Linked DNA regions of Homo sapiens: region 2 is linked to region 1. Evidence: fine-mapped expression QTL. A gene starts in region 1. The other region holds a variant in brackets. All regions are shown on one strand. Distances are from middle to middle.

Region 1 (5,375 bases):
GCAGAAGAGTGATTCTGCTCTGCAGGGTGACAGTGGCGGCCAGAGGAGGTGTGTCATCGGAAAGAAAAAAGTCTGCTTGATTGTCACAGGGACCGTTCACTTAACACGTATTTCTCGAGTGTGTGAGCATCTAGTCAATGCTGCTAGATGCCAGAGAGGCAAAGATGACTGCACTTGGTCCTAGCCCCTTGGAGCACCTTGTCTGGCACTGGCCCCACTGCTGCAGCCCTGGCTGAGGTCAGCAGGCTGCTCTCCCTCAAGTCAGTGGCCACCAGAGCCTTACCTGCCAGCCCTGTCTGCCACCATGGCTGCTGGGCCTCCCTCAAGCTTATTTTTGATGTCTATATTGTGGGTCAAATTATAAGAGGCTTTAAAAGGATGAGTGTAAATGGAGGTGTCTGTCCCCTAATGGGTGCCCAGAGGAATTTTTCCATGTCAGGTAAGGATACCTTTTTTTCTGAGGCAGGGTCTCACTCTGTCTCCCAGGCTGGAGTGCAAAGGGCGATCACAGCTCACTGCAGCCTCGACCTCCCAGGCTCAAGCAATCCTCCCACCTTTGCTTCCTGAGTAGCTGGGACTACAGGTGCTTGCCATCACAGCCAGCTAATTTTTTTTTTTTTTTTTTGTATGTTTTTGTAGAGATGGGATTTCACCATGTTGCCCAGGCTGGTCTTAAACTCAGCTCAAGCTATCTGGCCCCCTCTGCCTCCCAAAGTGCTGGGATTACAGGCGTGAGCCACTGCGCCTGCCCACCCGCCCCCCACCCCCCGACTTCTTTCTTTTTAAACATTTTTGTAAACTTCTCTCTTTTTAAACATGCACACTCACTCCACCCAAGCCTCTGAAGACAGAATTCTTGACCCTATTGCACTTACGATCTAATAGAAGAGACACAGATATAATATATTATGGTTTGATATGTTCACTGCTAGAAGTTTATGCCAAGTGCTGCTAGAACATAAATAATGGAGCAGTTCATCTTTCCTGGGGATAGGAGCCAGAGCCACAGTGAGCGCTGTTGACTGGGGTCTTAAAATTAAGCTGCATATGCCAAGCAGGGAAAGCGGGAAAGAGCATTGCCAGCAAAGGGAGCAGTATGATCAAAATTCCAAAGCAGTGCGTGCCAAAGGGCGTGTCATGAGCTGGAAAAGGTATGGTAGCACTGGTCAAGATTGCAATTTCAGTGTTCTTTTTTTTTTTTTAATTGAGACAGAGTCTCACTCTGTCACCCAGGCTGGAGTGCAGTGGCGCGATCTCAGCTCGCTGCAACTTCCACCTCCTGGGTTCAAGCAGTTTTCCTGCCTCAGCCTCCGGAGTAGCTGGGATTACAGGCACCCGCCACCACACCCAGCTGATTTTTGTATTTTTAGTAGAGACGGGGTTTCACCGTGTTGGCCAGGCTGGTCTCGAACTCCTGACCTCAAGTGATCCTCTCATCTTGGCCTCCAAAAGTGCTGGGATTACAGGCATGAGTCATGGCACCCGGCCAGTTTCAGGGTTTGTTTGAAATGATCACTTAATGAGTAACTGTCTCCCCTACTAGACTGTAAACTCTATGAGGGCCGGGGCTGGGTCTGTGTTCAACCACACTATGCCCCAGTGCTGAGCATGTCATGGCATTCAAATAAATATCCGTTGGATGGATGAATGGATGGAAGAAAGGAGGGATGAAATTTTTTAATTAAGAGATGTGTGCCAATTTTGGCAAATTTGTCAAAAATTTTGAAGAAAGTTTTTCTCAGTGAATATGAATATATTCCACTTGTGAATCTATTCACAGACTATGGGCTTGCTGGAACCTAAGAGTCATCGAGTAGTTTAGACTTCTTATCAATAGATTTTTATTTATATTCATAAGAGTATATTCTTGAATATATTTACTAATGCATTCATTAACAGTATATATTCGTATTCATTGAAAACATTAAAGAAAAAATTCTTTAGAATGGACAAATCAGAATATTTCACTTTTTTTTTTTTTTTTTTTTTGAGGCAGAGTCTGGCTCTGTTGCCGGGCTGGAGTGCAGTGGCACGATCTTGGCTCACTACAACCTCTGCCTCCTGGATTCAAGCGATTCTCCTGCCTCAGCCTCCCAAGAAGCTGGGACTACAGGTGCGTGCCACCACACCCAGATAATTTTTGTATTTTTAGGAGAGGCGGGGTTTCACCATGTTGGTCAGGGTGGTCTTGATCTCTTGACCTTGTGATCCGCCCGCCTTGGCCTCCCAAAGTGTTGGGATTACAGGCGTGAGACACAGTGCCCAGCCTAGAATATTTCATAAATGTAGCAAATTGGCTTTAGGGAACTTTTTCTGCTTCCAGCATTCAGCAGCTATTTGAAGGGTTTTGGAAGCAAAGGAATGGAGGGAGACAGGACGGCACCCTGAGGGAGACGCAGGGCTGAACGGAGCTGTTCGGGGATAGCTGTGGCTTGAGTGGGTCTGTTGGCTGAAAGGAGGGATTCGTTGAAGAAGGAGCAATGGACGAGGTGAGAGAGAGGATACTGGATGGAACCAGGTTTCAGAGGAGGCTGATGGGAGAATGTGAGGAGCACCAAAGCGAGCCTTAGGAAAAAGAAGTTCAGACAGACAGACACTTCGGTAAACCACAGCTCCCAGTATTCACCACTGTGTGTAGTCTCCTCCCACACTGACTCTGGGCTTGGTCAGCTGACAAGCTTTGGCCAATAGGGCTCTAGCAAGAAGATGCCAGCAGAGGCTTGAAAAGTGCCTACCCCTGGCCTGGGATGCTTCCTCCTGGGATGCTCCCACTTGGAACCCAACTATTGTGCTGCAGAAGTTTAACTTAACTGTGTAAGGAGGCCAAGAGGAGGCCCTGGCTGCCAGCCAGCATCAACTTCCAGTGACGTGAGTGTGCCATTCTGGAACTGGATCCTGCAGCCTCGGTGGAGCAGCCTCAGCTGATGCCATGTGGAACAGAGATGAACTGCCGCTGCCGAGCTCTGCCCACGTTGCAGAATCATGAGCAAATGTGAGTTTTGTGGTTTTAAGCCACGAAGTTTAGAGGTGGTTTGCAATAGAATGGAGGGGACTGCTTTTCTTCTGAGTTTCGGATTGAATTCTGCTTTACTATAACTTATTTATTATATATTTGTAACAATTCTGTCTCCACCCATCAGTATTCACCCGCCTAAGGGCACAGAGGCACCAGGACTCTGGGAACCTTCCTTGATGTCTGGATCTACTGCAGTGACTCTTAGTGCAGCAGTTAAAAGCCAGACTGTCCTAGTGTGAATCCGGCCTTGGCTATTCATTGGCTGGAAGACCTGAGCCAAGCCTGTGCCTCTGTCCGGGCATCTGGGTAGATGTCCTAGGAGTCCACTAAGAAGAAAACTGAGGCCAGTGAGAGGCAGAGTTGAGGCAAGGCGCAACTCTATTCCCCTGCTGGGGAAAGCAGCTCTGCCCCTCGGTCTGCCCTGCTGACCAGGCATGACACACCACCTCATCAGCAGGGCCCACGGCACCCAGACCTGGCCTGGAGGGGCTGAGACAGCATTGCTAGGGGTCAGATGGTCACAGAATAAGCAACCTGAGACCTGGAAGGGCATAAGCATCTTCCCCTACCTGGAATCAGAGGCATAGCTGAGGTCAAACATCAGGGCAGGAGGGCCTGGAGGGGGTCGGAACCAGAGGTCACCCGGGTGTTTGGTTGGGAGGGGCGTCCATCTTTATCTTATCCATCACCATCACCATTATTGCTAAACATACAGTGAGCATTACTATGTGCCGAGCACTCATCTAAGCCCTTTATACTTCTAAACTTCTAAACTTATCCTCATAGCCACTTTTGGACACCAGTACATTATTGTCTCCACATCATAGCTGAGGACTCAAGGGACAGAGGGGTTTTGTAACCTGCTGAAGAACATGCAGCAGCTGCATAGCATAGCCAGGATTTGAACCCTGGCAGCCTGGATCCAGAGCCTGCTTAGGACCACTCAGTGACACTATTGAGGATTTCAGCCACCTTCTCCATAACACTATAGTCTTGCTTTTACCCTACTCCCTCAAACATCTTTTTACCAGGTCAACATTAGCTTAAAAACTGAGACACTTTTCTTATTGAAGCACATGCTCCAAGTACACCCTCTCTGCTCCCCAATTAGACCATCATTCCTGCCTTCCCTCCGTCTTATCTCTTCTAAATCCTTACACCGAGTGCCACCTCCTCCATGAAGATTTCCTGTCCTGGTTACTTCCCACCTGGAAATTTATACCTTCTCTCTTTCTTTTTTATTTCCTTTTCTTTCTTTCTTTCTTATTTATTTATTTATTTATTTATTTATTTATTTATTTATTTATTTTGGAGACTTTTTGTTTTTTCTTTTCTTTTTCGAGACAGAGTCTTGCTCTGTCGCCCAGACTGGAGTACAGTGGGGTGATCTTGGCTCACTCTAGCCTCTGCCTCCCGGGTTCAAGTGACTCTCATGCCTCAGCCTCCCAAGTAGCTGGGACTACAGGTGTGTGCCACAAAGCCTGGCTAATTTTTTTTTTCTTTTTTTCTTTTTTTGCATTTTTAGTAGAGGTAAGGTTTCACTGTGTTGGCCAGGCTGGCCTCAAGCTCCTGGCCTCAAGTGATCCACCCGCCTCAACTTCCCAAAGTGCTGGTATTACAGGCATAAGCCACGGCGCCCGGCCTATACCTTCTTTCTTAATTTGCCCAGCACCATTTGTTTCCTCCACTAGTACATATTCCACGGCTTGCCGTAATCTGCTTTGATGCCTATGCTGACCACTGGGATGAGCCCCAGGGGCCCTCCCTTCACCATTCTGACAAATGTTCTTCCCAAAACCATGGGAGTAGCTAGGAAAAGGTAACCAACAGGGCTGTGGAGAAGACAGACAGAAGTAAGACATACAGTCCCTCAGAAGGTGGCAGCCAACCCTGCCTGAGCTCTTCTAGCACCCTAGGGGGGCAAGTTTGCTTTCAGCAGAAGAGCTGGGGTTTGGGCTGGGCATGGTGGCTCATGCCTGTAGTCCCAGCTACTGAGGAGGCTGAGGTGGGAGGATTACTTTAGCCCAGGAATTCAAGGTTAGGGTGAGCTATCTTTGTGCCACTGCACTTCAGCCTGGGCAACAGATCAAGACCCTATCTCTTTTTTAAAGAAGAAGAAGAAGGAGGAGGAGGAGAAGGAGAAGGAGAAGGAGAGGAAGAAGGGGGAGGGGGAGGAAAAGAAAGAGGAAGGAGGAAGAGGAGGGAGGAGGGGAAGGGAAAGAGGAAGGAGGAGGAGAGGAAGAGGAAGAAAAGAAGAAGAGGAAGAAGGAGGAGGAGAGGAGGAGGAGACGAGGAGGCGGAAGGAGGAGGAGGAGGAGGAAGGAGAAGGAGGAGGAGGAGAGGGAGGAGGAGAAGGAGG
Region 2 (5,375 bases), 38 kb after region 1:
ATCCACCTTCAGCAATGATCAATCCATGGCCAATCTTTCATCTCAACACTCGTATCCTCATTCTTGTGGAGCAAATGCCAGACATTCTTTCATCCATCAGTATGTCAATATGTATCTCTGAAATAGAAGGACTTTTTATAAAACATAATCATAATATAATTAATATTCATTCCCCAATTGTTTTGTTATTGTCTTTTACAGTTTAATTTTTGTTTTGTTTTGTTTCGTTTCTTTTTGAGACAGGATCTTGCTCTGTTACCCAGGCTGGAGTGCAGTGGTGCGATCATGACCCATTGCAGCCTCTACCTCCTGGGCTCAGGTGATCTTCCCACCTCAGCCTCCCAAGTAGCTGGGACTACAGGTGCATGCCACCATGTCCAGCTACTTTTTTGTATTTTTGTAGAGATGAGGTCTCACCATGTTGCCCAGGCCAGTCTCAAACTCCTGGGCTCAAGTGATCCACTTGCCCCAGCCTTCCAAAGTGCTAGGATTACAGGCATGATCCATAATACCCAGCTACGGTTTGTTTTCATTTGGATGCTAATAAGACCCATACATTCCATTTGGTTGATCTATCTCTTCAATTTCTTTTAAATTTATAATTTTATAAGGTCCCCTTCCACATTTTTCTTTGTGGAAGAGGAGAAAAGACCCTTGTTCTCTGGATCACTCTGTGGTTAAGGGGGTAGGTCCTCAAATCAGATGCCCTGGTTCTATTTTGCTTTCTTGTTTTTTAGTACTTTTTGTTTGTTACCTACACACAGAAAAGTACATGAATCATAAGTGAGCAGCTTGATGAATTTTCATAAGTGAACACACCTGTGTAACCACCACCCAGCTCAGGAACAGGGCATCACTGGCACCCAAGAACCCCCTCTCAGGCCCTTTCCCAGTCTCTACCACCTCACAAAGGTCAGGTGACTTTTTCACACCACAGCCATGTGTTACCTCTTTTTGAACTTTATATAAATAAAATCATAGCATACATTTCTTGGATGACTGGCTTCTTTCACTCACCTTTATGCTGGTGGCATGCTTATCGTAATGATTTGTTCATTCCCAATGCTGCATAGTATTCCATTGAATATGAATGTTCTACAATCTGTTTATCCATTCTAGTGTTGATGGACATTTGGACAGTTTACAATCTTAAGCTATTACGAATGGTGCTATTGTGAATGTTATTGTCCGTGTGTTTCTTTGGGTACATACTTAAGAATGAGAATTATGCATGCTCATGTTGCCAAGGTTTTAATTTTGGGTTTACTTAATATCACTTTTGTGACCTCAAGCACATTATTTTACCTCTCTGGCCTCAGTTTCTTAATCTGTAAAACAGGCATAATCATATTCACCCTGTGGAGTTATTGGGAGGATTAAATATTTAAAAAAATCTAAAACTCTTAGAATCGTGCTTGTCTCTTAGTAAGGGTTTTATAAATGTTAGCTGTCAACCCTTCCTCCCTTTGTGGTGGTAACTTCTCAAGCTCCTTCACTGTTTTTCTCCTCCTGCCAAGTTTCATTCTCCCAAGTTCAAGTTAACCTGGTCTGCTTTTCTTTCTCTCTGAAACTTGTCTATGCCTATGACTTCCATTATCTTGTACTGTGGACAGCTTTTGCAACGTGTTACCTAGAAACTATGACTCCAAATCCCCTTGTCTACAAAACTCAGCCTCTCCCCTGCTTACCAATGCTCCCTTTCTAGTAATGATGTCATATTTTCCCTTTCCCTTGAATATATGTGTCACCAAAATCTCAACAGATCTAAAGTAAATTTACCTTTCTCTCCCATATTAGAACCACCTTGGGATCATCTCTGACCCTTCTCTCTTTCTTGCACCCCATATTTAATCTGTGGGGAAGTCCTGAAGAATCTATGCTCACATCACTGTTATTCTTTTCTTTTTACTTCCACTGTCTAGTTCAGGCCCTTAACAACTTACATTGAAACTAATGCAATAACCTGTTATCTCTTCTACCTGGCTCCAACCTCTCCTATTTCTAATTTTCTCTGAACATTGCCTCCAGATTAATTGGACTAAAATATGGCTTCATAATAAATCATCATGATAGGGCATATAACTGTGAAAAGAAAATAAAGCCTTGGGACCCCAAACTCACTATGTCAAAGGGAAAAATTAAGCTTGGAAACTGAGTCACACAAAAACTGCCTTCCTTTTGCTCCTAAACAGATCGTTGCATTTGGATATTTGGACTGTTTACAACCTTAAGCTATTACAAATGGCGCTATTATGAACGTTATTGTCCATGTTTTTCTCTGGGTACTTAGTTAGGAATGAGTATGTGATAACGGAAGGCCATCTATCTCCCCAGGTGGCCTTCCTCACAATTGCTTACAAGGAAATTTTTTGTGGGTCCCAAATCTTTCAGAATACATATCCTCCTGATGAACTACCCCTAAAACACAGTTCTGTTGAATCTCACCCTGACAATGTAGGCTTTTTTTTTTTCTTTTTTTTTTTCTTGTGAGACAGAGTCTTGTCATCCAGGCTGGAGTGCAGTGGCACGATCTTGGCTCACTACAACCTCTGCCTCCCAGATTCAAGCAATTCTCCTGTCTCAGCCTCCTGAATAACTGGGACTCCAGGTGCCTGCCACCAAGCCTGGCTAATTTTTTGTACTTTTAATAGACATGGGCATTTCACCATGTTGCCCAGGCTCATCTCGAACTCCTGACCTCAAGTGATCCACCTGCCTCAGCCTCCCAAAGTGCTGGGATTACAGGCATGAGTCACTGTGCCTGGCCAACTATGTAGATTAACATCTTATCTTCACAGGTATGAGACAAAGACCAGACTAGAAATAATTCCTCTGCCCACCCAAGACAAATGCATATTAGATTTCTTCCTCTACTCTGTGTTTACATATTTTATGTAAAATGTAGATTTACCAAGCAAGAAAACTAACATAATTGACTGTTCCTCTACCCGCCCCTTTCACATGTAAAATGTAGATTCAGCGAGTGCTAATCAAAGCCGCATAGGAAAGTAATCTCCTGTCTCATTGCTTACCCTTCCTTCTTTTTTTCCTTTCCTCTCTAAAGTCCTGAAAAACCCTTTTTGGAAAAAGCACAGGCCACAGATCCTATGGTAACTTGTGTTTCTTTCTCCCAGAAGAACTATGGT[T/A]ACTTGTGTTTCTTTCTCCCAGAAGAAGAAATAAAACAAACTTCTACATGGCAAAATAAACCTCTACATGGCAAAATAAACCTCTACATGGCAAAATAAACCTCTACATGGATAGAGATCTGTCTCAGACACATTTTGGTTTCCATGACTTCTGAATGGCAGCATGAGGAGCTCCATGAACCCTCTCCCCAGTGAAATGACCATAATCTCTGGAAATTGCTTAAGATCAAAGCCACAACTATTTAAAGCCTTTGGAAATTGTTTTATGGGGATGCGGCAAATTAATAAACTTTTATTCAAGAAAATGTACTAAGTCTCAGTAAGAACAGTGAGAGTCAATAACATTTGTACCACAAAAGACTTCCTCCCTCCTTCTTCTAGCTCAGCATGATGGAAAAGTTACTCTAAGTAGGTGAAGCCGAGAACACGGGCTACCTCTTTCCCCAGCTCTCAGTTGAGGGCTACTATATCTCGCTGGGAGGGCGGCTGCCAGCATTTCTCATACCCTCCAGCTTCATGCTGCAAAAGCTCTACTTTGGACAAGACTGGCTGATAAATCTGGGGCTCACTTCGTAAACCTAGCCCCCAATCATAGGGCAGAAACTCCACCTCGGCCATGGCAGGCTGAGAATACTGGAGCCTGTGTTACCCTGGCCTCAGCTTGCTCATGGGGCAGAGATTCTTTACAGGAAAGGCAAGAGCAGAAGAGCAAAAGCTACTGCTCTGCCCAGCACTCTGCTCATAAAGCCGGATTGTCATCCTGAGATAAGGGGGCCACTGTCTCTGCCTGAGTTCCCCAAGCTCCGGAGCAGTGGTGCAGAGGTTTTGCCCAAGGGGAGAGGAAGGCGGTAGATACAGAGACCTCTGAAGTTCTTCCCAAGAAAACACTTTATGTAGAACACAATGTGGGAAAGTTCAAGTGTAAGGGTGTTCTCAAAAACAATGAAGATTTTGTTGGTAAGCAATTAAGAGGAGCCTGGGAACTCCATTCAAGCAACAAGCTGAACTGTAGACCAGCTAGAAGTGTTCTGGAGAGAACCAGGGAAAGCATCAGCTAAGAAGAGCCCCCTTGGTGTTAGAATAAGTCTCAAAGACTGACCTGAAAGATTACCCTTGCAAAGGGGCCCAAATTTAATGTACAAGACAGGAGCAATTCATGCCTCCAGGGCATTATCAAACACGAAAGAACAATCAGCCAGCAGTTGGTGGAGGCTAACGGCTGTATGTGATACCATAGCAGGCTGACAGCTTAACAAAGAGATAAGGTAAAGAGAAAAGGAGACTTTTTTTTTTTTTTTTTTAAGATGGAGTCTCACTCTGTCGCCCAGGCTGGAGTGCAGTGGCCCAATCTCAACTCATTGCAGCCTCTCACTCCCAGGTTCAAGTGATTCTCCTGCCTCAGCCTCCCAAATAGTTGAGATTACAGGCGTGAGCCACCACACCTGGCCCAAATTTTACTCTTCTAGGCACCTCATGTAAGTGGAATCATACAGTATTTGTCCTCTTGTGATTGGCTAATTTCACTTTACATAATGTCTTCAAGTATCATCCATATTGCAGCATGTGTCAGAATTGTCAGAATTTCATTCCTTTTTTTTTTTTTCTTGAGACAGGGTCTCACTCTGTCTCCCTGGCTGGAGTACAGTGGCACAATCACAGTTCACTGCAACCTCAACCTCCTGGGCTCAAATGATCCTCCTACCTCAGCCTCCCAAGTAGATGGGACTACAGGAGCACGCCACCATGCCCAGCTAATTTTTTTTTTTTTTTTTTTTTTTTTTACTTTTTTGTAGAGACAGGATCTCACTGTATTGCCCAGGCTGGTCTTGAACTCTTGGGCTCAAGCAATCCTCTTGCCTCTGCCTCCCAAAATGCTGGGATTACAAGCATGAGCCACTGCACCGGCCAATTTCATCCCTGTGAAAGCTGAATAGTATTCCATTACTTGTACTTACCAATTTTATTTATCCCTTCATCCATCAATGGACATTTGGGTTGTTTCCCCCTTTTGGCCATTATGAATAATGCTGCTATGAACCCTGGCATACAAATCAAATGTAACTTAAATGCCACGTCTGCATTGTGGGTGATACAAGAGATGATTATAGAATAGCACATGGAAGAACATTTAAAAACATAAATTTAAAATGTCATATTTAAAAATGTAATAGTTGGCCGGGTGCAGTGGCTCAAGCCTATAGTCCCAGCACTCTGGGAGGCCGAGGCAGG

Alleles and levels. Positions count from the first base shown, and alleles are read on the strand shown. Sizes are in standard deviations (SD) of each study's normalised expression.
For the expression in spinal cord of the gene that starts at base 2,690 in region 1, allele A in region 2 goes with a higher level than allele T (moderate effect, 0.51 SD a copy in GTEx).

Evidence for each region. PIP is the estimated chance that this variant, and not a neighbour inherited with it, causes the effect. A credible set is the group of variants that fine-mapping cannot tell apart.
Region 2: its variant is the best candidate, but not a certain one, in a credible set for the expression of CARMAL in spinal cord (GTEx, PIP 0.67).

What each region holds. Positions count from the first base shown.
Region 1 is chr15:89,038,309-89,043,683 of GRCh38, forward strand. CARMAL (coronary artery disease region linked MFGE8 regulatory lncRNA) reads left to right here and starts at 2,690. Exons shown (of 4, transcript NR_183882.1): 1 at 2,690-2,992. It also overlaps a transcript of ABHD2 not described here.
Region 2 is chr15:89,076,266-89,081,640 of GRCh38, forward strand. The region is part of intron 3 of CARMAL (coronary artery disease region linked MFGE8 regulatory lncRNA); the gene reads left to right. It also overlaps a transcript of ABHD2 not described here. Among named protein-coding and RNA genes, the nearest start is that of ABHD2, 9.5 kb to the right of the region's middle. The variant T/A (reference allele first, on the strand shown) is at 3,147.